Regions from separate parts of the Homo sapiens genome. Here regions 2, 3 and 4 are each reported to be linked to region 1. Evidence: microRNA targets listed by miRTarBase, many of them from high-throughput screens and not tested one by one. Region 1 holds a microRNA gene; each other region holds the end of a gene's coding sequence.
The links. The annotated mature microRNA hsa-miR-320d reads AAAAGCUGGGUUGAGAGGA and lies in region 1 at 2,664-2,682, shown strand. An mRNA with a match to its seed (bases 2 to 7 or 8) in the 3' UTR can be bound and repressed. Matches are read on the target gene's strand: a 7mer-m8 pairs with bases 2 to 8, a 7mer-A1 pairs with bases 2 to 7 and ends in A, and an 8mer does both.

Region 2: miRTarBase lists CREBRF as a target of hsa-miR-320d. Seed matches in the 3' UTR shown: 7mer-A1 at 4,619-4,625 and 8mer at 3,418-3,425.
Region 3: the mRNA of BCL7B is a reported target of hsa-miR-320d. Seed matches in the 3' UTR shown: 7mer-m8 at 5,060-5,066.
Region 4: miRTarBase lists SYNM as a target of hsa-miR-320d. Seed matches in the 3' UTR shown: 7mer-m8 at 2,272-2,278.

What each region holds. Positions count from the first base shown.
Region 1 is chrX:140,921,731-140,928,853 of GRCh38, reverse strand. It overlaps MIR320D2 (microRNA 320d-2), which reads left to right and starts at 2,623; the gene lies at 2,623-2,694.
Region 2 is chr5:173,132,878-173,140,000 of GRCh38, reverse strand. CREBRF (CREB3 regulatory factor) reads right to left here. Exons shown (of 9, transcript NM_153607.3): 9 at 717-6,371. The coding sequence ends at 6,256. Among named protein-coding and RNA genes, the nearest start is that of BNIP1, 8.1 kb to the left of the region's middle.
Region 3 is chr7:73,531,576-73,538,698 of GRCh38, forward strand. BCL7B (BAF chromatin remodeling complex subunit BCL7B) reads right to left here. Exons shown (of 6, transcript NM_001707.4): 5 at 6,359-6,438; 6 at 4,781-5,815. The coding sequence ends at 5,723. Among named protein-coding and RNA genes, the nearest start is that of BAZ1B, 13 kb to the left of the region's middle.
Region 4 is chr15:99,132,488-99,139,610 of GRCh38, forward strand. SYNM (synemin) reads left to right here. Exons shown (of 4, transcript NM_145728.3): 4 at 1-3,106. The coding sequence ends at 571. TTC23 (tetratricopeptide repeat domain 23) reads right to left here. Exons shown (of 14, transcript NM_001288615.3): 13 at 6,830-6,912; 14 at 3,836-5,640. The coding sequence ends at 5,523. TTC23-AS1 (TTC23 antisense RNA 1) reads left to right here and starts at 6,830. Exons shown (of 2, transcript NR_186223.1): 1 at 6,830-7,123. RefSeq lists an enhancer at 4,277-4,778.

The sequences.
Region 1 (7,123 bases):
GTAGTCTTGGCTTTTTAAAAAGACACCTAGGAGGCTTTCATTAGGATCCTTCACGGAGTTTGGGGTTTATTTTTAAAATTATTTTAAGACAGAAAATTGAATCACTTGTCCTCATTCTATCACAACACAGTCATTCATTTATTCAATCATTTAGCACCTTATTCATTTGGTCAACTAATATGTACTGAGTATCACTTATTTAATTTACCAAAATCTACTGTGTGCTAGGAACTACACCAGGCACCAAAATGCAATGTTCTCTCTGGCTGCCAGTACTGGTGACAAATGCTAGGATGATGAAAAAAGATTAACACTGCCATCTGAGATGTGTCAGACATCAGCCTGACCAGCTTGTTTCAATTCACTTTTTTTTTTGTCTTCTCCATCATTCATTCATTCATTAACACAAGTATATACTGAGTGCCAGGCACTGTGTTAGCCACTAAAGATGTAATCGAGAGCAAAATCAAAGTCCCAGCCTGGAGTGGTGTCTTCTCTGGTGGAGAATACAGCTATTGATCAAAGAATCACACAAGAAATAAACAATTGTAACTGTGGCAAGTTCCCCGACAAGTCCATTGTGGCCCTCATCCGCGCCCTCAGCTTCATAGAGTACAACCAGAGCAGCTGCATTTTAGTCTCTTTTATGTATTGGGCTTCCAGGTAAGATTAATTGAGGGAAAAATTGGGGTTTGATTTTTAAAAGTTGGAAAGCCACTATTCTATGGCATTTAACTCTGTTATTATATTGGCGATGAATTTTTTTTTCTACTGAATCTTTGCAACTATATGTCTCAAATATGAGATGCACTTTCTTAAAAGTGATTTTTAATCTTGCTGACAGATTATTATTTCCCTAGGATCTCAAATTCCCTCATTGTGTAATCATTTTCTCTAAGATTTTCATCTATCTTTACATCCCAAATGAATCAGTATCAGCTAAATAAATAACTAAATAAATTAATAAAGCAAGAAAGGAATTCCTCTTGACTCACCTACTTCTGCACAAGGAGATTATCTCTAATGCAAACCCAATTCATTCTTGAAGAGGGAAATAACCTGCTAGATTGATCTATAATCAGACACTAAACCCCAATGACCACCCCAACTAGGTGCAAGCATGCTTGGTGTGTCGAACAAAAATGTCTTTAACTTCTACTTACTGAAAAATTTTTTTGATAGTGTTCATCTATGATATCACACTTATTCTTATCCCCTTCAAAAGAGCAACTGCAATATTTTACACTTGTATGATACCACACAATTTAAAAAGAACCTCAAATGCAGAACCTCATTTGATCCTTAACCAACTCAGTAACTTACAAGTAGTATTTGGAAATGGTCTCACCCAACTAGCCAGACACATCTGTCGATGCTTTACTTTTGAGTTTGGGGGATGTCTGCTTGCTAGTGGTAATATTTGTGTTTATGAAGTTCTGAACTACTAACAAGTGAAATAAAGAAAGAAACTTGTATATATTTTCTATTTTATATGGTTTCTATTATGCCCTCACCTCCAATTTTTCACTTACTCGGTTTTCAAGAAACGAGATTATACCGGGTACAAGCAAACCTTAAAGATGTGGATGCTGACTGGTTAAACATGGCATTTTAGCCAAACACCGTACCTTAGCTAACCAAACTATGTCCCTATCTTCATTTTGCAAATAAGATATTGAGGTACACTCATGCTCCTCCTAATTGTTTTAATGTTTTTGAGCAGATGGTACAGCCCTAATTCCACTGAAACAAACCATGGTGGGTTGAATAGGGACCCCAACCCAAAAGATATGTCCGCATCCAAATACCTGGAATATGTGAATGTTGCTTTATTTGAGGAAAGGGTTTTGTAGATGTAATTAAGGTAAGGATCTCAAAATGAGATTATCCTAGATTATCCAGGTGGACCCCAAAACTGATAACACGTGTCCTTATAAGAAACAGAAGAGAAGAGACAAACACATAGAGGAGAAGGTGATGTGAAGACGGAGGCAAGATTGGATTGATGCTACCACAAATCAAGGAATTCTTGGAGCCACCAAAAGCTGGGAGAGGCAGGGAACAAACTCTTTTCTAGAGCCTCTAAAGCAGCAATCCTCAACCTTTTTGGCACCAGGGACCTGTTTCATGCAAGACAATTTTTCCACGTACTCAGGGAGGTGTTGTTGGGGGGCGGTTTTGGGATTAAACTGTTCCACATCAGATCATCAGGCTTTAGGTAGATTATCGTAAGGAGCATGCAGCCTACATCTCTTGCATGTACAGCTCACAATAGGGTTGGTGCTCCTATGAGACTCTCATGTGGATGCTAATCTGACAGGAGGTGGAGCTCAGGTGGTAATGCTCACAGGCCCACTGCTCACCACTGGTCTGTGGCCCAGGGGTTAGGGACCCCTGCCCTAAAGGGAGTGTGGCCCTGTGGACAGCTTATTTTCAGACTGCTGCCACTGGAAATTGGGATTCTCCAGTCAATTACTTGTAGCCATTTTTCACATTAAAGTCTGTATATTCACTGTGTTCTTAGAGCCCTTGTAAAGCTAACCAGCTCTTATCACCTTTAAGCAAGTGGGAACTTTTAGCCTTTCTAAAGTTGTAATTCTACTTCTGAAATGTCTTCAAATGTATCAATAAGCCTTCTCTTCCCAGTTCTTCTTGGAGTCAGGAAAAGCTGGGTTGAGAGGAGCAGAAAAGAAAAAAGAAAAAAAAATCGTTATTTTTAAATTCAAGAAAAAAAGCTGGATTTCCCACTATTATATTGCCACAAAAAATTACTTATTTTAATGCACTCAAGTAAGCCTTGATATTGTGGGTTGTTGGAGAAAAATGCACTATTTCCTGTCTATAAACATCTAAAGAAGAAAAAACATCTAAAATAATCACATTTAGTATTCTTGCAGTATGATTTGGATGCACTTCTGAGGTAATCTCTATTTTACTTAATTTTTATTGCTCCAGTTCAGTTAGCTAGAGTTTTTTATGTTTAGATAGTGTGTATGTGTGTGTGTGTGTGTGTGTGTGTGTGTGTAATATGGGGGTGGCAAGAGGCTGTTTCAGTAGACCATCAAGTTATTCAATTTGTATGCTACTGCTCTAGCTGGATTTCACATATGATATTATTTACTATATTCCTTATGCATTAGGTAAAATAACAGTGGAAAGATAGAAATGTTTTTTACTGAGAATTGCTAGCATAAATTTGAAAAAAACAGCAAATCTGTCAAATTCTTATCATATTTATGCTATAAGACACTTACTGAAAGAAAAAACCCTCTTTTTATATAGCTTATAATTGCAATCCAGATAACATAAAACATTTCTCATTATGGAGGAAAATATGAATGTAAATCTTATCTACATAAAAAGGTTGATGTTTTATTTCATTTCAAAATTCACACAAAACATTTTGTGACTACTTCTACTTTGAAAAGACAGAGCAGATTTATATGAATTTTTATTAATTGCTTCAATCCTTCCTGGCTTTGACAGCCTGGAGTCCTGGAAAGACCATTGGACCTGATTTTAGAAAGCCTGCTCTGCTACTGTGTGAGCTAAGTGTCTGGAAACCTAGATTCTTAATCAAAAAACATGAAGATAAAAGAATCTGTACCACCTAGATCAAAGAGTTATTACCAACACATCTGCCTAATAAAATCCCACTCATCCTTCAGTGCTGTATTAGTCCATTTTCACACTGCTATAAAGAACTGCCTGAGACTATAAAGGAAAGAGGTTTAATTGACTCACAGTTCAGCATGGTTGGGGATGCCTCAGGAAACTTACAATCATGACAGAAGGTGAAGGGGAAGCAAGGCACCTTCTTCACAAGGTGGCAGGAAGGAGAATGAACAAAGGAGGACATGCCAAACTCTTATAAAACCATCAGATCTAATGAGAACTCACTCACTATCACAAACAGTATTGTGGAAACCACCCCCATGGTTCAGTTACTTCCACCTGGTCTCTTCCTTGACATGGGGATTACATAGGGATTACAATTTAACGTGAGATTTGAGTGGGGACTGATAGGGTTTGGCTGTGCCCTACCCAAATCCCATCTTGAATTATAGCTCCCATAATTCCCATGTATCATGGGATGAACCCAGTGGGAGGTAATTGAATCATGGGGGCAAGACTTTCCCATGCTGTTCTTGTGATGGTGAATGTCTTATGAAATCTGATGGTTTTATAAAGGGGAGTTCCCCTGCACATGCTCTCTTTCCTGCTGCCATGTAGGAAGTCCCTTTGCTCTTCCTTCATCTTCCACCATGATTGTGAGTCCTCCCCAGCCATGTGAGTCCATTAAACCTCTTTCTTTTATCAATTACCCAGTTTCAGGTATATCTTTATTAGCAGCGTGAGAACGGATTCATACAGGGACACAGCTGAACCATATTAAGTGCTAAGACCATCACACCTTCCTGTGAGGCAGTGACTTCTAGAGCTGCACATTGGAATCACCTAGGAAGCCAGGGCCACTCCCAGAGATCCTGAATTGCCAGCTTGGGTGGGGCATAGAGCCAATAAAAGCCCCTTGGGAAAACTGGCCTCCTATCTTGTCTGCACAGTCCCTGTACAGGGTTCCTGACCTGTGGTAAGTAAAGAATGTCACTTTCTAACAGGCCTAGGAGCCCCTTGTTATCTTGGGATCTCAAGAGGAGAGGAATTTACTCAACTCATAGGTATTTGAGGGTACAAACCCATGACTGTGCTCAGCTTTAAAAAAACTCTTATCTGAGATTCCTTTTATGGAACAAAGTTCCATCAAAGCCAATTTTAAAGGCCTATATAAAAACAATTATTCTTGCTGCACTTTACACAAATAATCAGGCCAAGTATAATAAAGCAAATCAGTCTTACTATGATTTGTCTTTCATAAAAATGGGATACTGGAGAGAGAAAAATATGTTTCAAAAACTATGATATACCTGTTACTCAATTATAGTCTCATCAGTTGTTTTTGAGTTTTTTTCTGCAAGTTAGACTAACTCTGCTTATTCCTGTGAACCAACCAGTGATCTCTGGCTGCTGATCAGAAGAAACAAGAGGGATGGTTAATGTAATAATCTGGATCAGTATTCTAATTCTGGGCATGTATTGGAATGTATAGCATGTATAGCAATTCCATATCAGCTTGGTTCCAACAGCTGCCCAGTTCATGGAAAGCCTTCTTATTGAGTTTACTTGGGATGGATTTACTTTTTTTTACTTTACTGTTGTGGAATATATTTGCTGTTGTACTCTTTGTGTAGGAATGATGGATAAGCTTACTCAACGTTTTCTTAAACTGAACACTTACTAATCTTCCAGATATTACCTTTTGTTGGAGTTACAAATGGCCTTCACCATACTGACAGTTTCTGACTGAGCTCCTCTCTACCCTGAATACAAGAGACCCTAATAGTTAGGTAGGAATATCATTGTCTTTATTCAGCCTGAAGAAGTTACAGAAGATGGACCTTCCTCCCTCTACAAACCTTAGGATTAAGCGTTCCCTTGTATAAGGGAGGGGGGAAATGTCAGAGGTGTTTGAACCAGAGTGACTCCATCTTGAATAGGGACTGGGTAAAGTGAGGCTGAGACCTACTGGGCTGCATTCCCAGGATGTTAGGCATTCTAAGTCACAGGATGAGATAGGAGGTCGGCACAAGATACAGGTCATAAACGTCTTGCTGATAAAATAGGCTGCAGAAAGGAGCCAGCCAAAAGCCACCAAAACCAAGATGGCAACGAGAGTGACCTCTGGTCGTCCTCACTGCTCGTTATATGCTAATTATAATGCATTAGAATGCTAAAAGACACTCCTACCAGCACCATGACAATTTACAAATGCCATGGCAATGTCAGGAAGTTACCCTATATGGTCTAAAAAAGGGAGGAACCCTAAGTTCCCCGAATTACCCACCCCTCTCCCAGAAAACTCATGAATAATCCACCCCTAGTTCGGCATATAAACAAGAAATAACCATAAAATAGACAACCAGAAGCTCTTGGGGCTGCTCTGTCTATGGAGTAGCCATTCTTTTATTCCTTTACTTTCTTAATAAACTTGCTCTCACTTGAAAAAAAAAATGTGTTCAAAGCCCCGCAGGTTATTTATTTATTTATTTATTTATTTATTTATTTATTTTTTGAGACTGAGTCTCGCTCTGTCGCCCAGGCTGGAGTGCAGTGGCGTGATCTTGGCTCACTGCAAGCTCCGCCTCCTGGGTTCACACCATTCTCCTGCCTCAGCCTCCCGAGTAGCTGGGCTACAGGCACCCACCACCACGCCCGGCTAATTTTTTTGTATTTTTAGTAGAGGCAGGGTTTCACCGTGTTAGCCAGGATGGTCTCGATCTCCTGACCTCGTGATCTGCCCACCTCGGCCTCCCAAAGTGCTGGGATTACAGGTGTGAGCCACCGCACCCGGCTTCTCCCAGGTAATTTTAATGCATAATCAGAGTTTAGAATTCATTTCAACTCACAGTGGCAGAACTCATTCTTATCTTGTTGATCCTATTTTTTTCCTCAAGTTTGACTGAGGTTTAATTGGCAAGAACAAAACTGGAAACGTCACACCTTCTGATTTCAAAATATCTTATAAATATTTACAGTAATTAAAACAATATCATGCTAGCATAAAGACAGACATATAGACCACTGGAACAGTATAGAGAGCACAGAAATAATCCATGCATGTACAATATGCTCAACTGATTTTCTACAAGGCTGCCAAGAACACACAATGGGAATGGACATTCTCTTCAACAACTGGGGTTGGGAAAACTGGATATCCACATAGAAAATAATGAATTTGGACCCATATCTTACACCACACATAAAAATCAACTCAAAATGGATAAAAGAATTAAATGCAAGACCTGAAACGTTAATACTAGATGAAAACATAGGGGAAAAGCTTCTTGTTGATACTCCCAATTTAATCAGTCTCTATTTAAGTGAACTGCTAGACCAAGTGAAGTGCTTCAAATCTTCTATCGAACGTACTGACAAGTACCTTCAGGAAATTTACAACAAATAGGTTACCATCTGAAAATAGCAATAACAGCAGAAGTTTGTGTAAGGTACTCTTCCAAGCACTCTACAAGTACGAACTCATATACTTCACACAGTAACACTATTA
Region 2 (7,123 bases), not on the chromosome of region 1:
TAAGAACCCAAGTCTATCAATTCTCTAATACACCACTGGATGTGTCCATGAAAACACCTCAGCAACAATAATGTGCCTAGAGCCCTTTGCATATCTGTAACAGCTCCTGTGTTGTTCTGCAATCCTGTTCACATGCTGGCTCTGAGTTCCTGGAGTTCTCTTTCATCTCTCTATTGTCCAGTACCTAGCACAGGTCCTGGCAGAGTAAGTGCTCAACAAATATTTGCTGGCTGACTTTCAGCCACATACTCTGATGGAAGCCTTCACTTAGGTCTCTGGATTTAAGCCTCTATATATACGCCCAGCTTAGTTTGGAGACTTACTTAGAGTGATTAAACACACAAACACATACAAATGTTTAAATCAGGAGAGACCCAAAATATTTTATTTCCCATGCAGAACACTTGCCCAAAGATTAAAAGAGGAGAAATAAGAATATCCTCTAAGCTGTGAAGAATGCAAATGCTTACATCAACAAATAATTCTATATAATAGCTAAATGTCACTAAAATATTGAAAAATCAACCTATAGTGTCAAAAAAATGTTAGCTCTTTGATTATTACCACGAGAGGGGCAGCAGACCAGCAGTTCACCACTCTCTGTGATTTGGAATTTCTTTGGAATAGGTTATCTTGAGGAGCGGATGGTTACCTAGGTAAGCAAGATATAAGTACAGAAAGGAAGGGCGAAAACATGAGGCAAACAATTCAGAACGTTTTCTTTTCATCTTTTTTTATTTTAAATTACAAAGGATGTTGCATACACTGATGAATCTGTATCTGACTAGAAGTGCTCAGGGGTTGGAAGGTGACAGAAAACAAAGGCAAAATTTGCATTGCCTTTCCATCTGAAATGAAAAACTGCACAACTATTAACCAACATTTAATAGGATAATTTTTAAACAGCTCATGCGTCAACAAGATAAAGTTCTTTCTAGACAAGAGACAAGACTGAATCCAATAAAAAGTGTCATAGCTCCAGTTGGGAGAGAAAAAAAAAAAACTACAGAATATTTATGATAGCATTACAAACAGGATCCTACGCAACTATGCAAAAGAGGTTGCCACATTGTATGAACAAATGCTTTGAATTCTTGCCCTTCCACTCTTCTCTTGTGACTTCTGTGCTGTCAGCCCTAGTATCGCTGTCAACCACAATACTAAGCTGTAGGACAAATCCTAGGGAAAGAAGGTAAAAAAGCAGGCAGTGGAATACAGTGTCATAAAAATGTGGTGGAAAGGCAGATACAGTACACACATACACATTTCTGTTATTTGGTTCTGAAAAAAACAAAGGGCGAAGGGCAAGACATAGTAATCAGTCCTGCTCCTATCCACCCAGAATTTAATTAACTACACCATTGTGTTTACATTGTTATGAAAGAGGCAAACCGAACCTAGTTCACCCAAACTTGGCACATTGAAATACCCAACTTTGATGTTCTTCACTAGTTACCAAGTCTTCAATTCCAAAATACTGTTTGGAAGTAGTTTTAAGGCTCTGTCCCCTCACTACTACCTCCAAAACTCTCTAAACAAAAATGGCAATTTGGCCTAGCTCAGTTCCTAGGTGTAATTTCTACGATTTCAGTCAGTTTATTAAGCATGAGGACTATGCTTCAACACATAATCCCATTTGCCTATGGAAGTGTATAACTTTCAGTAGTACATTTTCATCATCTTTCCCCAACATGCTTATTCCTTAAAACGAAACCACCATTCCTACAGTTGACATTCATTGTTACATCCCAATGTGTTTGAAGTATTAAAAAAACATGGAGTCGTCTTCTCATAATGCCCTTATTAAGATTACAAAGATTACAAAAGAATCCACAAGTATTACGGCACTGTGTGAGACTTATTTGTCATGATCCAAGGGAAGAACAAGACTGCAGTTCTGTGCAAAGTTGTGGAAATGGCCTCAGTTCCATGGGAAATGGTATTCCACAACAGACTTCACTAGAAGGATAATTGAAACCTTTTACTTTAACACTGAAAGCATAATTCAATGCATTCTCAAAATTCAAGTTTCAAGATATGGAGAGATGCTAACATTCTGTTACATAATTAACTAGAAAATACTTGAACAGAATTTTAGGAAACTATATAAAGAAAGGGAACATAAGTTTTTGTTAATTCTTGCTGAAGGCAACTTGAATTCATTTCTTATAACATTAAATCTTAGCAGCTAAATTTTTTTAAATGTGTGGAATAAAGAAAAGCACATCCATTCTTGACATTTTGGTGAATAAACTAACAGCTTTATTAATGAAGGCAAACATCAGATCATTGTATGAATATTATATATATATATAAAAAGAAATCCAAACTAACAGCATTGTATTTCAAAAGTACTGTACTTCTGTTTCTTTTAAAGAGACTTGTCATCTGTTTTTATAAAACAAAATGGGTACTCTTCTCCTAAAAAATCCTGGAAAAATGAAATAGTCAATTTCAAGCTGATGAATTGAACACACCTTTCTTTAAATGCAGACTATTGCTAGGAAGCAAATAAAGTCAAGCATCAGAAAGAAGATGTATGAGAAATGCATGAAAGTCAGAGAAAAGGGATGTAGTGAAATTACTGCTAATCTTTCCCCCCTATATTCAAAGACCATCCAAAACTGGTCTTTCATACAAATATAAAATAACTATAAAGAGAGGGAATTTGAAACCATACCCATCTGAAATCCTTCATGATGCTTTTGTAATAGTTCTGATTCTCTTACCAAAAAGGTCAAAGTTAAAGATGTAGGAAGTGGAAGGGAATGAAGACGTTTAGTTTTAAATGTACAAGTAAGGCACAATATAAAGCCACATCATAATCTGTCATGAAGGATATAGGAAAGGACAAGAATCATACATGGTACAGTAGAACAAGCAATTATATTGACTGGAAAAGTGTGGCACCCAATTCAAAACTCAGACAAGATCTTAACAAGAGCGACTGGACAGCATGCTTTCATATGGAGACAAACTCTATAAAGAATCCAGTGTATCTGAAACTAGGAAAAAAGGTTTTTGTTGGTTTTTTTTTTTTTTAAATCATAGTAGTACTAGAGTCAAAGTTTATAATTGCTTTGGAACAATGGGTTTACTTGAGGTGAATTCACAATGCCTTCACTTAAAAGTAAGATTCTGGACTTCATTATGAGCTATCTGTATACCATGTATGAACACAGAAAACCTTTAGAGAACTCTTCTCTAATGATCTTCACCCAAAAATACATGCCACAATTTTCAAAAACAGAACATGTACAATTGTTGGGGTTTTTACATTACCCTTATAAGATTGGTTTGTGTGATACACTAAACGTATATATTTTAATGACAATAGAGGAAGCAGATTATTACTGGCATTAAAGTACAACCATTTCTAGACGGTTTTAAATGCCACAGAGTCCCCTGGTTAAAATGTAAAGCTGCACAGCTTGCCTATGTCATCTTTATGATAAAGTTAAAACAGCAAGAGGATTTAACTTTCACTCTACATTTTACTGCCAGGTTTTTATATAGATCAAGTATCGCTGCAGCATTCTGACCAGCCCAGATTTAGCAGCAAATGGCAGGAATCATATAAAATGCAATTTTTTTTTAACAAAGTGCTTTTCTAAGATATACATACATATATAAATAGGTACAAAATAAAGTGTCAACATTAAAAAGCTCAACTATTTAAAAGCTTTTAACTATTTAACTTAAGTAGTACATATAAAACACTGAAACTCAAAGATATGGAATCTACTAAACAGATTCAAAGTCTTTTTTTTTTTGAAATGCAAGACCAAAAAATCAAATTCTGGTTTGCAGACAGGAAAAAAGTATCAAAAACCAGAATTCCTAACAGAGCAGCTAGAAAGGGGCAATTTTATAAACCTTATCAGCTGAATATCATGAGGTGATTTTCACCTGATTGCAAAACTGCCATAGTTTGAAACACTTTTCAATTTACCAGACACACTCTGTCAAGACTTCATATACTTCCAACTTGCAAGCCTGTGTTTTGCCTTCTCCAACCTAAAAAGGAAAAGCTTTAAACGATGAACTTACATTCTATTAAACCATCAGACTTGAGCTTATCATCTGTTTAGCGTGAATGTACAAACCAGGTACATTTCCACCAAACACATAGAAAAATCTTGTGCATCACAGTTCAGCTAAGGTGGTAAGACAATCCTTACAATCCTCCTTGGATTTCTTTTTTAAGATGTCAAAGAAGCAGGTAAGCAACATTGTTCATTTGTTACTGGGTGTTCTAGATCAAACCTTCACAAGCTATATATATAGCTTCATATGCTATAGCTTACAAATGGGGTAACAAAGTAAAAGAAAAGAACAAATTATACTTTGACACTTTATAGTCAAAGTATAATTAAAAAAGAAATCCTACAGTGGGTAATGGAGAAATAGATAATTTTTCCAGCAGCTATGCCTGAAATTTTTGGTATTTTTTTCCTTGCTAAATATGCTTTTTTTCTTTTTTTAGTTTTTAAGCCACCAGTTTTCAGAGTTCAAAGCACAAGATTTGAGAATAAAACAGTAAGAGAGACAGGATGGAAAAATCTGTGGGGGAAGGTTTATAATGCTGCCTTGACATAAGAAATTTCTCATCAAGAGGTAAAGCTTGAACACAGTTAAAACACTGACTAATGAAGCTGTTTTATATGAGCAAAAAAGAGCACCTAAAAACTAAATGTGTTAATGTTTCTCAATTCTAGAAACTATAGAAGAATAAGTCACATGTTAAGTTTGAAGAAGCTAGTTTGAAAATACCTGTACAAAAATATAAAAATCTATAAATTGTTTTTGTTTTAGCCTGTGTTGATCTTTGAAAATATTACATGCACAATAATACATCAATCGGAAAAGTGGCAACTAAAGAATTAGATATTTTTAGCTTTTTTCTTTCTTTACATATATATATATACATAATACAATAAAAATAATCTATTTTGTTGTCTGGTGGAAGTATACTACAATAAGCTAAATAAACATTTTAATTTTCAAAGTCAAAAACTATTTTATCAATAGCTTACTAAAATGAAATATATTAAAATTTCCTACAATAAGTGCAGAAATAAAAGACATCTAAATGGCCACCAACTTATCTACTATGGAAGCGAACTAGAGGAACAGCAAAATAATATTTGTATGTATGGATGCTCCTTCTGTAGATAATTGGACCCAAACAGAAATAAAATTCACAGTTCAGTAAGATCCCTAACCCTGACCTTTTTTTTTCTTTTTTTTCTCCTTTTTTTTCATACATTCATACAGTATCATGTAAGCTGTGCAAAACTTTACTTAGACTGGCAGTTTGCCATATCAGTTGCATTTGTCTTTGGTACAAAAAATAAAACAATCGCAATAATGTGCAAGTATTTGTCTTCTTCCGGTCAAGTACCGAAATATGAGTTTTCTAGAGCCATCTTTTTTTTGTTGTTTTTTGTTTTGTTTTTTATACAATACACAGACTCTGTGGCATATATCTACATTTCAACATAGTCCTATATACATTCAAAAAATCTGAAAAAGAGTTGGAACAAAAAAACATTTAAACCCCATAATTTTTCCATCTATATATCTTGTTTTTTCTCATTAGGGTTTTCATCATACAAAATATTACCAGTTTTAGAGTTTCCCCAAAATACAAGGCACAAAGAATATGCTTTTTTTTTCTTACTTGCACAGACATTTGTGTGTGTGTGTGTATATATATATATATATATATATATTTATATATATCATCTTGAGCTCTGACAATGAACATCTAATATGGCCCACAGGCACAAGTGCTGGGTGTGCCATATACAAGTGAGATTAATGGTTGTGGAAAATTAGAACAAAAAGCAATAATTCTAAAAACAATTTAAACCGACTGTTTAAAAAAATGCTTCCTCAATTTTTTTGTGTGGTTCAGAGCATAAATCTGCCACAATACTTGGCATTTTACTATTTCACTCCTCCAAAATGTTTTGCTTTAACAGATTTTTGTAATCTGTACCTAACATTTACTTAAACATATGATTTTCAATTCTGATGCCAGTAGCAGTTTTAATCATGGTTTATGCTCTGAAAATGCAATAATCAAGTATTTTGGATCATGCTTCACTTATGCTACTTAGTTCTTAAAACAATGTAACCTAATTGTAAATGTTTACATAATGCTAACTGACATGCAAAACAGAATGAAAATTTACAATGGATAACGTGACAAAACGCAGACATTTCTGACCAGTGGTCCAATGAGGCTGATTACACCTTTGATGTTGGTATCCTTAATCCTACAAGGCCTCCAGTGGGATTCCCTTCTGCAGTCTTCTCTAACACTTGGTTAACAAATTCTGAGGTTTGCCCAGCAACTGGTAGACCTGAAGAGAAGAATAAAAGGCACATCTAGACACAAAAATGGAAGGCCATGAAGGGAAGGGAAGGAGCTGGTAAAAACTGAGGTTCAGGTGTGGCCCTCAGCTTGATACTGGTCCCAAATGAATTCCCTGGCACTTGTTATTGCAGCTCAGAAAACAATGCTACCCTTCATATTACTGTCTAAAATTTTAAGATTAGAAAAGTCAAACCAAGGATAGCCATGAAAAATCATAAACCAACATTTAAAGTGAGGTAGATGACAAGTGTAACAGTCCAAATAACAGTCCAAACCCAAACCCAAAGGCTGCCGACAGGCACTGCTTCCCACGCCCTGGTTTTTCCCTGTTCTCTCAGCCAGTCTCTTCCAATTACTCTAAACTCACCAAGTTCCATGGGTAGGTTTCACCCATGAAACTGAAAATATAGACCTGAAGGATGTTTTGGGTCATTTTTATAATTACTGGATACAGTTTAAGTTTCCTTTTCTTCATTTAAAAAAGTGAATGAACGAATAAGAAATGTTGGAAGAGAAGAGGGAGAAAGGTGGGAGCAGCATAAGTATGTAGATTTTCTCATCTTCCTCATCTTCCATAGTAAGACCAAAAGATAAAATCACTAAATCAAATAACAGAGGTATAAGTACATTTTTTTAAGTATTAAGAAAAATAAAAAGGATGGAAATAGAAATATATTTGTCAGCTAGGCACGGTGGCTCAGGCCTGTAATCCTAGCACTTTGGGAGGCTGAGGCAGGC
Region 3 (7,123 bases), not on the chromosome of region 1:
GGGGGGGGGAATATCTGTAGGCCGAGCACAATGGCTCATGCCTGTAATCCCAGCACTTTGGGAGGCAGAGGTGGGAGGATTGCTTGAACCCAGGAGTTTGAGACCAGCTTGGGCAAAATAGTGAGATCTCATCTCTACAAAGAAAAATTTTTTTGGCCTGACGTGGTGGCGTACGCCTGTAATCCCAGCACTTTGGGAAGCCGAGGCAGGTGAATCACCTAAGGTCAGGAGTTCGAGACCAGGCTGAACAACATGGCAAATCCCCATCTTCACTAAAAATACCAAATTAGCTAGGCATGGTGGCGCATGCCTGTAATCCCAGCTACGGGAGGCTGAGGCAGGAGAATCACTTGAACCCGGGAGTTGGAGGTTGCAGTGAGCCAAGATTTCACCATCATACTCCAGCCTGGACAAGAGCGAAACTCCATCTCAAAGGAAAAAAGAAAAAAAAGATCTCATATCCAAATTTCTCAAGGCCCAACTCAAACACCACCTATTTTATAAACTTTTTTTTTTAAGATGTCTCACTCTGTCGTCCAGGCTGGAGTGCAGTGGCATGATCTCAGCTCACTGCAACCTCCACATCTCAGGTTCAAGTGATTCTCCTGCCTCAGCCTCTGGAGTAGCTGGGACTACAGGTGCCCACCATGCCCGGCTAATTTTTGTGTTTCTAGTAGAGATGGGGTTTCGCCATGTTTGCCAGGCTGGTCTCAAATTCCTCACCTCAGGTGATCTGCCTGCCTTGACCTCCCAAAGTGTTGGGATTACAGGCGTGAGCCACCACGCCCAGCTCTATAAACTTTCTATGATCTCAAAGCCTCCAAGATTCTTCTCCAGACCCTAATGGTATTCCACCTTCACGACCCCTCATGGCTCCTACTTCTCCACCTTCTCTGCTGCATCAGACCATAAGCTCCTTAAAGGCAGTGACCATGTGTTTACCAGTTATACTTTACAAAGAACCTACCAAGATTATGTTTGCAACAAATACAGTTGTCCCTCAGTATCCACAAATTCAACTGGTAGTGGATCAAAAATACCGGATTCAAGAGATGCAGAACATGGCCTACTGTGGGACTTGAGCATCTGCAGGTTTTGGTATCCACCAGGGTCCTGGAACCAACCCCTCCAGATACCAAGGGACAACTGTATTTGTAAAATATTTTTATTTATTTATTTTTTTGAGACATAGTGTTGCTCTGTCGCCCAGGCCAGGCTGGAGTGCAGTGGCAAGATCTCGGCTCACTGCAACCTCCACCTCCAGGGCTCAAGCTGGGATTACAGGTGTGTGCCACCACACCCAGCTGATTTTTGTATTTTTAGTAGATGGGGTTTCACCATGTTGGCCAGGCTGGTCTCGAACTCCAGGCCTCAAGTGATCCATCTGCTTCAGTCTCCCAAAGTGCTGGGATTACAGACATGAGCCACCACGCCTGGCCAATATTTTTATTTTTTAATAAGACAAGGTCTCTTTCTGTTGCCCAGGCCGGAGCGCAGTGGTGCAATCATGGCTCACTGCAGCCTTGACCTCCAGGGCTCAGGCAATCCTCCTGCTTCAGCCTCCAGAGTACATGGGTCCAGAGGTGTGCACCACCACACTCAGCTAACTAAAAAAAAAAAAAAATTATTTGTAGAGATGGAGTCTCCCTTTGTTGCTGAGGCTGGTCTTAAACTCCTGGACTCAAGCAGTCCTCCTCCTCAGCCTCCCAAAGTGTTGGGATTACAGGCATGAGCTACTGCACCCAGCCCATTATACTTTCCTTTGTTTAAACACATTAAAACAGTTATGTTGGCCAGGCATGATGGCTCACGGCTGTAATCCCAGCACTTTGGGAAATGGAAACCGAGGTGGGTCCAGCCTGGGCAACATAGTGAGACCTTGTCTTTACAAAAAAAAAAAGGGTCAAGCGCAGTGGCTCACGACTGTAATCCCAGCACTTTGGGAGGCTGAGGTGGGTGGATAACGAGATTGGGAGTTCGAGAACAGCCTGGCTAAGGTGGTGAAACGTCGTCTGTACTAAAAATACAAAAATTAGCCAGGCACAGTGGCAGGCACCTGTTATCCCGGCTACTCAGGAGGCCGAGGCAGGAGAATTGCTTGAACCTGGGAGGCGGAGGTTGCAGTGAGCCAAGATCACGCCACTGCACTCTAGCCTGGGTGACAGAGAACACTCTGTCTCAGAAAAAAAATACGTATTTTGTGTACCACATACAATCACATTATCTGTAAAATTCATTTGACAATTTGATTTTATATGTCTCTTTTTTTGAGACTCCCTCTGTCGCCCAGGCTAGAGTGCAGTGTCATGATCACGGCTCACGACAGCCTTGACCTCCTGGGCTCAAGAGATCCGCCCACCTCAGCCGTCGAGCAGGGGATGCTACAGGCATGCACCAACATGCCCAGCTAATTTTTGTTTTTGTTTTAGAGATGAGGTTTCACCATGTTGCCCAGGCTGGTCTCGAACTTCTGGGCTCAAGCGATCTTCCCAAAGTGCTGGGATTACAGGCATGAGCCACTGTACCTGGCTGTTACATTTTTAAAAGATTATTACTTATTTTTTTAGAGACAGAGTTTCACCCTGTCGCCCGGGCTGGAGTGTAATGGCGCAATCGGGCTCCCTGCAACCTCCGCCTCCCAGGTTCAAGAGATTCTTGTACCTCAGCCTCCCAAGTAGCTGGGATTACAGACATGTGCCAGAACGCCCGGCTAATTTTTTGTATCTTTGGTAGAGATGGGGGTTTCACCACGCTGGTCAGGCTGATCTCGAACTCATGACCTCGTGATCCGCCCGCCTCAGCCTCCCAAAGTGCTGGGATTACAGGTGTGAGCCACCACGCCCGGCCTACATTTTTGTATTTGTTAATGAGACAGGGTCTTGCCATGTTGCCCAGGCTCGTCTTAACTCCCAGGCTCAGGCAATCTTCCTGCCTTAGCCTTCCAAAGTGCTGGGATTACAGGCCACTGTGCCCAGCCCTATATATATAAAAATATTTATATATATATATATATTTTGAGATGGAGTCTTGCTCTGTCGCCCAGGCTGGAGTGCAGTGGCGTGATCTCAGCTCACCGCAAGCTCCGCCTCCTGGGTTCACACCATTCTCTTGCCTCAGCCTCCCGAGTAGCTGGGATTACAGGCGTGAGCCACCGTGCCCAGCCCCAGCCCTATTTATATTTTGTAAGAAAAGATAAAACAGGGGCCGGGTGCGGTGGCTCATGCCTGTAATCACAGCACTTTGGGAGGCCGAGGCGGGCAGATCATGAGGTCAGGAGATCGAGACCATCCTGGCTAACACAGTGAAACCCCGTCTCTACTAAAAATACAAAAAATTAGCTGGGCGTGGTGGCAGGCGCCTGTAGTCCCAGCTACTCGGGAGGCTGAGGCAGGAGAATGGTGTGAACCCGGGTGGCGGAGCTTGCGGTGAGCCGAGATCCCGCCACTGCCAGCCTGGGTGACAGAGCGAGACTCCGTCTCAAAAAAAACAAAAACAAAACATAGAACAGTAGAACTTGTATTATAGTCTCATCCATGACACCTGGAGCCCCTGTGAGAAATGAGGGGAATCACTCCGGGAAATAAACAGATCTGTGGCTGCCAGGGCCCGAGGGGAGGGGAAGAAATGGTGAATGATGCTAACTGGACATGAGGTTTCCATTTGGGATAATAAAAAAGTTCGGAGCTGGACTGTGAGGACTGCCCAGCACTGTGAATGTACTCAGTACTCAGTACCACTGAAATGCACACTTCACAATGGTGACAAAAGTAACTCTTGGCCAGGTGCAGTGGCTCACACATGTAATCCCAGCACTTTGGGAGCCTAAGGGGTTCGAAACCAGCCTGGCCAACATGGTGAAACCCCACCTCTACTAAAATTACAAAAATTAGTCAGACGTGGTGGTGCACGTCTGTAATCCCAGCTACTTGGGAGGCAGAGGTTGCAGTGAGTTGAGAACACACCACTGTACTCCAGCCTGCTGGGTGACAGAGTGAGACTCTGTCTCAAAAAACAAACAAACAAAAACCTTTTATGTTACGTGTATTTTACCACAAGGGGGGAAAAAAAGAACTCATGAATCCCTCCGAACTACATGGACCTGTGGAAAACACATCCATGGGCTGCATTTGGTGTACACAGGGATGGAATTTGGTTTTGTTTTTTGAGATGGAGTCTCGCTCCGTCACCCAGGCTGGAGCGCAGTGGCGCAGTCTTGGCTCACTGCAACCTCCACCTCCCAGGTTCGAGCAATGCTCGTCTCAGCCTCCCAAGTAGCTGGGACTAAAGGCGCCTGCCACCATGCCTGGCTAATTTTTGTATTTTTAGTAGAGATGGGGTCTCATTTTGCTGGTCAGGCTGGTCTTGAACTCCTGAGCTCAGATGATCCACCCACCTCAGCCTCCCAAAGTGCTAAGATTACAGGCGGGAGCCACTGCGCCTGGCCTGGTTTTTATGTTTTAATTTAAAAATATTGTTTAGATAGAGATAGGGTCTTGCTGTGTTGCCCAGGCTGGTCTCAAACTCCTAGCCTCAAGTGATCCTCCTGCCTCGGCCTCCCAAAGTGCTGGGATAAGAAGTATGAGCCACCACGCCCAGCGAGAAGCATAATTTGAACTACGTGACAGCTTCAAAGGGAGGCTAGAAATCACTGTCATGAAGTCCACACTGTGGGAGTGAAAGGATGGGCAGGCCCAGCCCACAGTGACCCCACAAGCACTCAGCCACCACCCCCACCCCGGCCCGCAACCTTCAAGAAGGAAGCACTCAGATACCAACAGGACATATTTCAAATAGTTTAATTTTAAAAATATTCTATTCAGTGCTAAAATATGTCTTCACTCACTGTTGCCCATTTCCATTTTCTTAAACTTTTTTGAAACAAAAAATAAAATCACAAAGTTCAATTCAACATGCAGATTTCAAAGAAAAGGGAGCTTTCTAGAAACTGAGCTGAAGGGGTACTGTGGGGGATGGGTACTGTTGTCAGAACCTCAAATTCTTGCTGGGGCAGTTTGTGACAAGAGGCAGGGATGCTGGAATGACAGGTAGAGGTGAGAACAAAGCTGCGTGTGTGCAGATGTGTGTGCTGAGGGCAGGGGATGGGGACGGCGGCCACAAAGGGCTGTCAGCAGCTAGGGTGCCCGTGAGAGGTAGGACCACCTCAGGCATGGGCAGAGCTGGCAGGACAGCAAGAAATCTAGACGGACTCTCTGCCCTTGTGTGGAGAAAAGCCCTTCCCTTCCCTCCAATGTCTCTACCCAGTCCTCCAACAGCAGCCTACAGGGCCCCCAGTCCTAGGGGAAAGTCCGGGAGTCTACAGTCTCCGTTCAAGTTCAAGTAACCTGAGGCACGCTCTCTTCTAGAAGGTGCCTTCCACATCTCTCTCTTCTCGCAGAAGCTGCCAGCAGCTCCGTCCAGAGATTCTGGAGCAGAGACTGCTGCCTGGAGGTCACAGATGAATCTTGGGGTGGCCGATGCTCCAGCCAACTTGGGGTGCAAAAAAGACATGAGCGCTCCTCTTCTCGGGAGCAAGTAGACACAGGTGCCAGGGTCAGGAAGATGATGCTACAGCCCCAAGTCCTACGCCAGCCTTCCAGCCCGGAAGGCTCATGTGTGCAGGCTCTTGACCCCAGTGCTTGCCCTTACCCCAGCAACGCGGCGCGGCCAGAACCAGAATGCAATAAATAGAGGCAGGGCCAGGAGGCGGAGGGCCGGGATGGTGCTAGCTTTCTGACGCCGTCTGCGGCACTGTGGGTTGGTCCACACAGAAGCGCTTCAGGGGCGGGGCACCTGAGTCTTCCTCTTCCTCAACGACCTAGGAGCAGGCAGAGCATGGAATGCCAGGGCCACCCCTCCCAACCAGAACCTTCCCACCCACCCGAATTATAATGGGATGTCCACTCTGCTCCTTCCAGCAGATGATCAAACATCCTCCCCTGCCTACAACCCTGGGACTCATTTCCGGCGCTGCAGATCCAACCCCACATCCACAGTCTTTCCTGGTTTTTTGACTTAGAAACTGGGAAGCCTGGCCGGGCACAGTGGCTCACACCTATAATCCCAGCACATTGGGAGGCTGAGATGGGTGGATCACTTGGGCTCAGGAGTTCGAGACTAGCCTGGCCAACATAGTGAAACCCCATCTCTACTAAAAATACAAAAATTAGCCAGGTGTGGTAGTGGGCGCCTGTAATCCCAGCTACTCAGGAGGCTGAAACAGGAGAATTGCTTGAACCCAGGAGGCAGTGGAGGTTGTAGTGAGCCAGGATCGCACCACTGCACTCTAGTCTGGGCAACAGCGAGACCCTGCCTTAAACCAAAAAAACAAAAAACTGGAAAACTCAAAGTGATTGCTTACCTGTGTCTCTAGTGGAACTGGTTCTTCCTTGGTGAGGGTAGGAGGTTCATCAGCAACTTCCGAGGAGGGCAGGGAGGGCTCTGAAAAGGCAGTAGGGTCGGCCTGAGGGCAGGGCTCCCCTGAGGCCTGGACCTGGGGGAGCTTCCTTAGAGCTGTGTGGAGGTGGCTTGGTGAGGAGGGGAGAATACTGGCCTGAGAAGCAAACATTCATTCAGGGCCCAGCTGGACCAGGTCACAGCCAAGAATGGTGGAAGGGCAAAATACGGCTAGACTGCAGAGGGCCATCTCTGCTGGGCTGGAGATATCTGGAACCGACAAAGCAGCTCATCTTGTCATCCTCTAGCCCAAACATCACAACTCTAACTCAATCTCCCAGTTTTCTGAGAGTTGCTATGAGGACGAGATGAAGTAATAAAACACAGGAGCTAAGAACAGCACATGCCAAATAGTAAGAACACAATAAATATTAACTACAATTGGCATTTCCCATGGAGAAACAAGTTCCATTTTGTAGTTGGCTGTTAACAGGTCACAGCACAGGAGAAGGTAACAAGGGCCTAAGACACATCTATATATCCATATTATAACAAGAAACCTGGGTCGGGCATGGTGGCTCACACCTATAATCCCAGCTACTCTGGAGGCTGAGGTGGGAGGATCACTTGAAGCCCAGGAGTTCAAGACCAGCCTGGGCAACATAGTGAGACTCCATTTCTACAGAAAATTAAAAGAAAGCCAGGCATGGTGGCAAAGGCTTACAGTCCT
Region 4 (7,123 bases), not on the chromosome of region 1:
TTCTGAATCTCCCCAGGAGGATAGTGCAGAGGACACATCAGGGGCAGAAATGACATCGGGTGTTAGCAGATCCTTTAGGCACATTCGACTAGGTCCTACAGAAACGGAAACCTCTGAACACATTGCCATCCGTGGACCCGTGTCCAGAACATTTGTGCTTGCTGGTTCAGCGGACTCCCCTGAGCTAGGCAAGTTAGCAGACAGCAGCAGAACGCTAAGGCACATTGCACCAGGGCCCAAAGAAACTTCGTTTACCTTTCAGATGGATGTGAGTAACGTAGAGGCGATCCGCAGCCGGACACAGGAAGCGGGAGCTCTCGGTGTGTCTGACCGTGGTTCCTGGAGAGACGCGGACAGTAGGAATGACCAGGCAGTTGGTGTGAGCTTTAAGGCCTCTGCTGGGGAAGGAGACCAGGCCCACAGAGAACAGGGCAAGGAGCAGGCCATGTTTGATAAGAAGGTGCAGCTCCAGAGAATGGTAGACCAAAGGTCGGTGATTTCAGATGAAAAGAAAGTTGCCCTCCTCTATCTAGACAATGAGGAGGAGGAGAATGATGGGCATTGGTTTTAATAAGCAGAAACATTTTGTTTTAATGGCAGCCTGTTGGCGACGTGCCAACATCCAAAGGCCTTAACTTATTTTAAGAGGCCGAGGGAGTCTATGAAAATCTCCCCTTTTTTACTTTTTTAAAGAGTACTCCCGGCATGGTCAATTTCCTTTATAGTTAATCCGTAAAGGTTTCCAGTTAATTCATGCCTTAAAAGGCACTGCAATTTTATTTTTGAGTTGGGACTTTTACAAAACACTTTTTTCCCTGGAGTCTTCTCTCCACTTCTGGAGATGAATTTCTATGTTTTGCACCTGGTCACAGACATGGCTTGCATCTGTTTGAAACTACAATTAATTATAGATGTCAAAACATTAACCAGATTAAAGTAATATATTTAAGAGTAAATTTTGCTTGCATGTGCTAATATGAAATAACAGACTAACATTTTAGGGGAAAAATAAATACAATTTAGACTCTAAAAAGTCTTTTCAAAAAGAAATGGGAAATAGGCAGACTGTTTATGTTAAAAAAATTCTTGCTAAATGATTTCATCTTTAGGAAAAAATTACTTGCCATATAGAGCTAAATTCATCTTAAGACTTGAATGAATTGCTTTCTATGTACAGAACTTTAAACAATATAGTATTTATGGCGAGGACAGCTGTAGTCTGTTGTGATATTTCACATTCTATTTGCACAGGTTCCCTGGCACTGGTAGGGTAGATGATTATTGGGAATCGCTTACAGTACCATTTCATTTTTTGGCACTAGGTCATTAAGTAGCACACAGTCTGAATGCCCTTTTCTGGAGTGGCCAGTTCCTATCAGACTGTGCAGACTTGCGCTTCTCTGCACCTTATCCCTTAGCACCCAAACATTTAATTTCACTGGTGGGAGGTAGACCTTGAAGACAATGAAGAGAATGCCGATACTCAGACTGCAGCTGGACCGGCAAGCTGGCTGTGTACAGGAAAATTGGAAGCACACAGTGGACTGTGCCTCTTAAAGATGCCTTTCCCAACCCTCCATTCATGGGATGCAGGTCTTTCTGAGCTCAAGGGTGAAAGATGAATACAATAACAACCATGAACCCACCTCACGGAAGCTTTTTTTGCACTTTGAACAGAAGTCATTGCAGTTGGGGTGTTTTGTCCAGGGAAACAGTTTATTAAATAGAAGGATGTTTTGGGGAAGGAACTGGATATCTCTCCTGCAGCCCAGCACCGAGATACCCAGGACGGGCCTGGGGGGCGAGAAAGGCCCCCATGCTCATGGGCCGCGGAGTGTGGACCTGTAGATAGGCACCACCGAGTTTAAGATACTGGGATGAGCATGCTTCATTGGATTCATTTTATTTTACACGTCAGTATTGTTTTAAAGTTTCTGTCTGTAAAGTGTAGCATCATATATAAAAAGAGTTTCGCTAGCAGCGCATTTTTTTTAGTTCAGGCTAGCTTCTTTCACATAATGCTGTCTCAGCTGTATTTCCAGTAACACAGCATCATCGCACTGACTGTGGCGCACTGGGGAATAACAGTCTGAGCTAGCACCACCCTCAGCCAGGCTACAACGACAGCACTGGAGGGTCTTCCCTCTCAGATTCACCTGGAGGCCCTCAGACCCCCAGGGTGCACGTCTCCCCAGGTCCTGGGAGTGGCTACCGCAGGTAGTTTCTGGAGAGCACGTTTTCTTCATTGATAAGTGGAGGAGAAATGCAGCACAGCTTTCAAGATACTATTTTAAAAACACCATGAATCAGATAGGGAAAGAAAGTTGATTGGAATAGCAAGTTTAAACCTTTGTTGTCCATCTGCCAAATGAACTAGTGATTGTCAGACTGGTATGGAGGTGACTGCTTTGTAAGGTTTTGTCGTTTCTAATACAGACAGAGATGTGCTGATTTTGTTTTAGCTGTAACAGGTAATGGTTTTTGGATAGATGATTGACTGGTGAGAATTTGGTCAAGGTGACAGCCTCCTGTCTGATGACAGGACAGACTGGTGGTGAGGAGTCTAAGTGGGCTCAGTTTGATGTCAGTGTCTGGGCTCATGACTTGTAAATGGAAGCTGATGTGAACAGGTAATTAATATTATGACCCACTTCTATTTACTTTGGGAAATATCTTGGATCTTAATTATCATCTGCAAGTTTCAAGAAGTATTCTGCCAAAAGTATTTACAAGTATGGACTCATGAGCTATTGTTGGTTGCTAAATGTGAATCACGCGGGAGTGAGTGTGCCCTTCACACTGTGACATTGTGACATTGTGACAAGCTCCATGTCCTTTAAAATCAGTCACTCTGCACACAAGAGAAATCAACTTCGTGGTTGGATGGGGCCGGAACACAACCAGTCTTTTTGTATTTATTGTTACTGAGACAAAACAGTACTCACTGAGTGTTTTTCAGTTTCCTACTGGTGGTTTTGATATTGTTTGTTTAAGATGTATATTTAGAATGACATCATCTAAGAAGCTGATTTTGCTAAACTCCTGTTCCCTACAATGGGAAATGTCACAAGAATGTGCAAAAATAAAAATCTGAGGAAAAAACCCACATTGTTCCTAAAGAGAATGAATATTTTCAGTAGATTTTGATGTTTCCTTTAAACTCTAAGTAAAGAATCTGTGTGTTTACATGCATGTTTTTAGGGTAGCAGAGAATTACTGGGCAGAATATATATGAAAAGTTCCAGTTCTCTAATTCCTCACCTGAATCGGAACTCAATATTGGGAGCACAGAGCTAGAAAGCCTGGCAGACAGAGCATAAGCCAATTGGCTTGTAATCAAATATACACTGGACAATTTGTGGTAAAAATGTCATCATCACAGCCTGAATGACTAGTGGCAGTAGGACACCACCAACCATCCCATTTGGGATGGAGAGGTTTCTTGGGATGTGGTACTTTGAGTGCTAAAACCAGGACTGTCCTGGGCATACCAGGACAGTTGGTTACCTTATAAGTGCAAATTGGAGGGTTAACCCTAAGGCATGGCCATTTCTTAGGGGCTTGAAAAAACTGAGGTAGTTTGAGACAAAGGAATAGCTAGATATCTTTACCCGTTTGTAACCTTGTAGCCCTTTACCAAAAATAGAAAAACACAAGTAGCTATAGTCTTCCTCTCGTTGAAGTCAACAGAATTAACAGATGGGAGACATTGGAGGGAACATTCCTAAATTCATTGCTTCCTGGGGTGGGGTGGGGTGGGGGCGCTAAATTTTAAAAATGTGTTTTAGTTTTTGTGATTCCAAGCTACGCTTCAAGAAGTACAGAAAGGAAGAAGTAACATCAGAATTCACATTTATTTCAAAAACTCGGCATGGACTCTCAGTTCAGGCTGCTGTAACAGAAAGCCGTAGCCTGAAAGGCTTAAACAACAAACATTTATTTCTTACAGTTCTGGAAGCTGGGAAGTCTCAAGGTGCCAACAGTTTCATTTCCTGGTGAGGGCTCTCTTCCGGGCCTGCAGACGGCTGTCTTCTCACTGTGTCCTCACATGGTGGAGAGAGAGATCATCTCTCTGGTGTCTCTCCTTATAAAGCACTAATCCCATTCATCAGGGCTCCACCCTCATAACCTAATCACCTCTCCAAGACCCCACCCCCAATACCATCCCTTTGGGGATTAGGGCTTCAACGTGAATTGGGAGCATATGAACATTCACCCCTTAGCTGACTCCACCCATGTCAACTAGATAGGACACACGGTGAGTAGTGACATCTTACACGTTTTTAGCACACTGCTGATGTCCGACAGGCCTGGGTCTGGGACCAGTGTGTACCAGCAAGCATGGTCTGTGGGGTCAGCTGTCACGCTCCTGAGGAAGACAATGGTCCCTGCTTCTCTCCACCCTGTCGTGGCTCTACTGAGTTTATTTTCCCCATCAATACTGGAGGTGGTGCCCTGCACAAATGGCCCCAGGGTGGTTTTGATGTCCCACTGGGGGCTGGAGGGGAGGGCCCTGTGCTGCAATCTGCTGTCATAGCACCAGCCTGCAGCCTCATGGCCACAGTCTGTGGGACCAGGGGAGGGAGGGGAAGGGACATCACTGCCCACACCTGCACCCCTACCCCTGGGTGTTCCATCCACCTCGATCTGGCACTGGATCTCCTCGTTGACATCGTGGAGGAAGGCACTCAAAGCTTCCTGTTCGACTTTGCCATCCTCACACGACTATGGCCTCCTTCCAGGGGGCTGAAGACTGCTGTGTACACGATAGTGTGCCAACTCAGGAAGCAGCTCCAGGTGGCATCCAGGTTTGTCCTGCCTGCAGTGGAGGCCACAGGAGGGATGCGAAGCAGCAGGGAGTCTGCGGTCTTCCCCCCGCAGCCTCCGGCTAGCCTTTCTTTTCACTCCCTTACACCTGCCTCCTGGGCCCCAGGCCAAGTCAGGTGTGTCGGCCTCCTGCCCCTCCTACTGGGCTCTTTCTCAAACCCCTTTTCAGGCTCCGAAGAACTCTGAGGCAGGCTGCACTTTGAAAACACATGCTGACAGCAGCGTGTTCAGGTTTCCCTTTATTAGCGTTTTCTTCTCATGTTATTCTCAATCCCTATTAGCCTCCTATAAGAAAGGACTTCCTGAAGTTCACTGTCCAGATCTAACTCCACACCTATGCAAGGAGCTGTGTGTACAAGCAGATGCCGGGCTGACTCCTGCACAGGGCGCACTGAACTGTTGAAGAGAAGTTTTTCAGCCACAGTAGTGCTGATGGGTAAAAATTCTTGTTGGCAAGAAAAACCACTTAGGTGATAGAAAACTGCTTTATAGCATATATCACCCTGAAGGGCATCCACTGTCAAAATGTGGCCCACGGGAGGCTTATGGTCTCACTGTTGCATGTTGGGGCCAACAGTTGGCCTTGGAAATCTGTATCCTGACTGTTGAATTCCATTTTCTAGGCGGAGGTGATTTGTACAGCACCCTAAATGACAGTGCCCAGGAATGTCCTAGGCTTTTTCAGGGTGGGGGCCTCAGTCTGCTGTTGTGCCGGGCCGGGCCTTCCCCAGCAGGGTGTCCTGAGGGATGCTGGTGCAGAAGGCCACTTTGGCTTTTGATGCCTGCCTTGGCTTCGAAGCAACCTTGGGGGCCCTGCAGACAAGCAGAGGGTGGGGTGAGTGTGGTGCCCCTCAGCCCCCCACACCGTTCCCATCCAGCCTTTGCTGCCCAGCAGGTGCCCAGACCCATTTATGAGAAGACTTGGTAGGGGCTATAAATGAGAGGAGAATTGTAGCACAGAGCATAAAACATGAGATGTTTTCCTCCCATCTTTTATTTTTTTAATTTTTTTTTTTTCAGACAGAGTCTCACTCTGTCACCCAGGCTGGAGTGCAGTGGCCCCATCTCGGCTCCCTGCAACTTCCGCCTCCCAGGTTCAAGCAACTCTCATGCCTCAGTCTCCCGAGTAGCCAGGATTACAGGCACATGCCACCACGCCCAGCTAATTTTTGTATTTTTAGTAGAGACGAAGTTTTGCCATGTTGGCCAGTCTGGTCTCAAACTCCTGGCCTCAAGTGATCCACCGCCTCGGCCTCCCAAGGTGCTGGGATTATAGGCATGAGTCACCTCGCCTGGCCCCTCCCATCTTTTAAAATCACCTGTGACCATCCTCACTGAGCTGAGGCCCTCAACCCTTAGCTGGCTTGGTGAGCAGGACATGGGTGAGGAGGATGGTCAGGGTTGCACTGGAGGCCTCCCTGGCTCGCCTTCCCTGCCCTCAAAGGGGATGGCGCCCTGCTGGCCAGGTTGTGTCTGCTCCGGGCTGTGGCCCTGTTTCCCTGAGCAGACTCAGGCAGCCCTGGGGCTGCTCTCTGCGGACCAGGCTCTGTGAGGTAGGCCCTCCACGGCAGAGCGCTGGGCCTCTGCTCGGGCTGAGAAAGGACGTAGGGGCCAGCCTTTAAGGTCAGTCAGTGAACCTTCCGGCTCCAGTCCTGACGGGCATCCGAGGGCAGAGGGAAGCCGGAAGCAGGGCTGCAGGAGGCCACAGGGATTCCCGGGGCCCTCCCCCTGCAGCAGGTGCCTTAGCCTGCAGGGGCTGGTCTGCAGGAAGACAACATCCAGCATATATTTCTGACTTAAAGGATGAATTATTTTTAAATACCTGGGCAAGGAAGATCTTTTACAACTCGGGTTTCAAAGGAACTTGTCCTTTATGCAAGTTATGGGAAGTCAGCAAAACATTCCAGAGAAGGTTACACAGAACCTTCTAGAACCAGCTTTCTCTTGAGATTCTGAATGGAAAGGGAATGAGATAGAGAAAGTGTGAGGGACGCCAACTCACGTGGACAGCATGCCCATGGCCTGCTGGGTGGCCAGAGTCCTTTTGTCCTGCGGTCCATATAAGAGGGTCTGGATCTGGAGACACTGTAGAACACCAAGCAGCTATCATGAGGCTATGGAAGTGTCGCTGAGAGCAGGAAACTAAGGTCTCCCTTGAATGAGAGAAAGATGACCTCATTCTTAGGCCCTGCTGTGATGGAATTAGCATGCTCCTGGGATGTCTCCTAGTGACTGACCTTTGGTTTGGATGTTCTGAGGGATCTAGGCAAAAGTGAACAGTTTTAGCACTATTTCA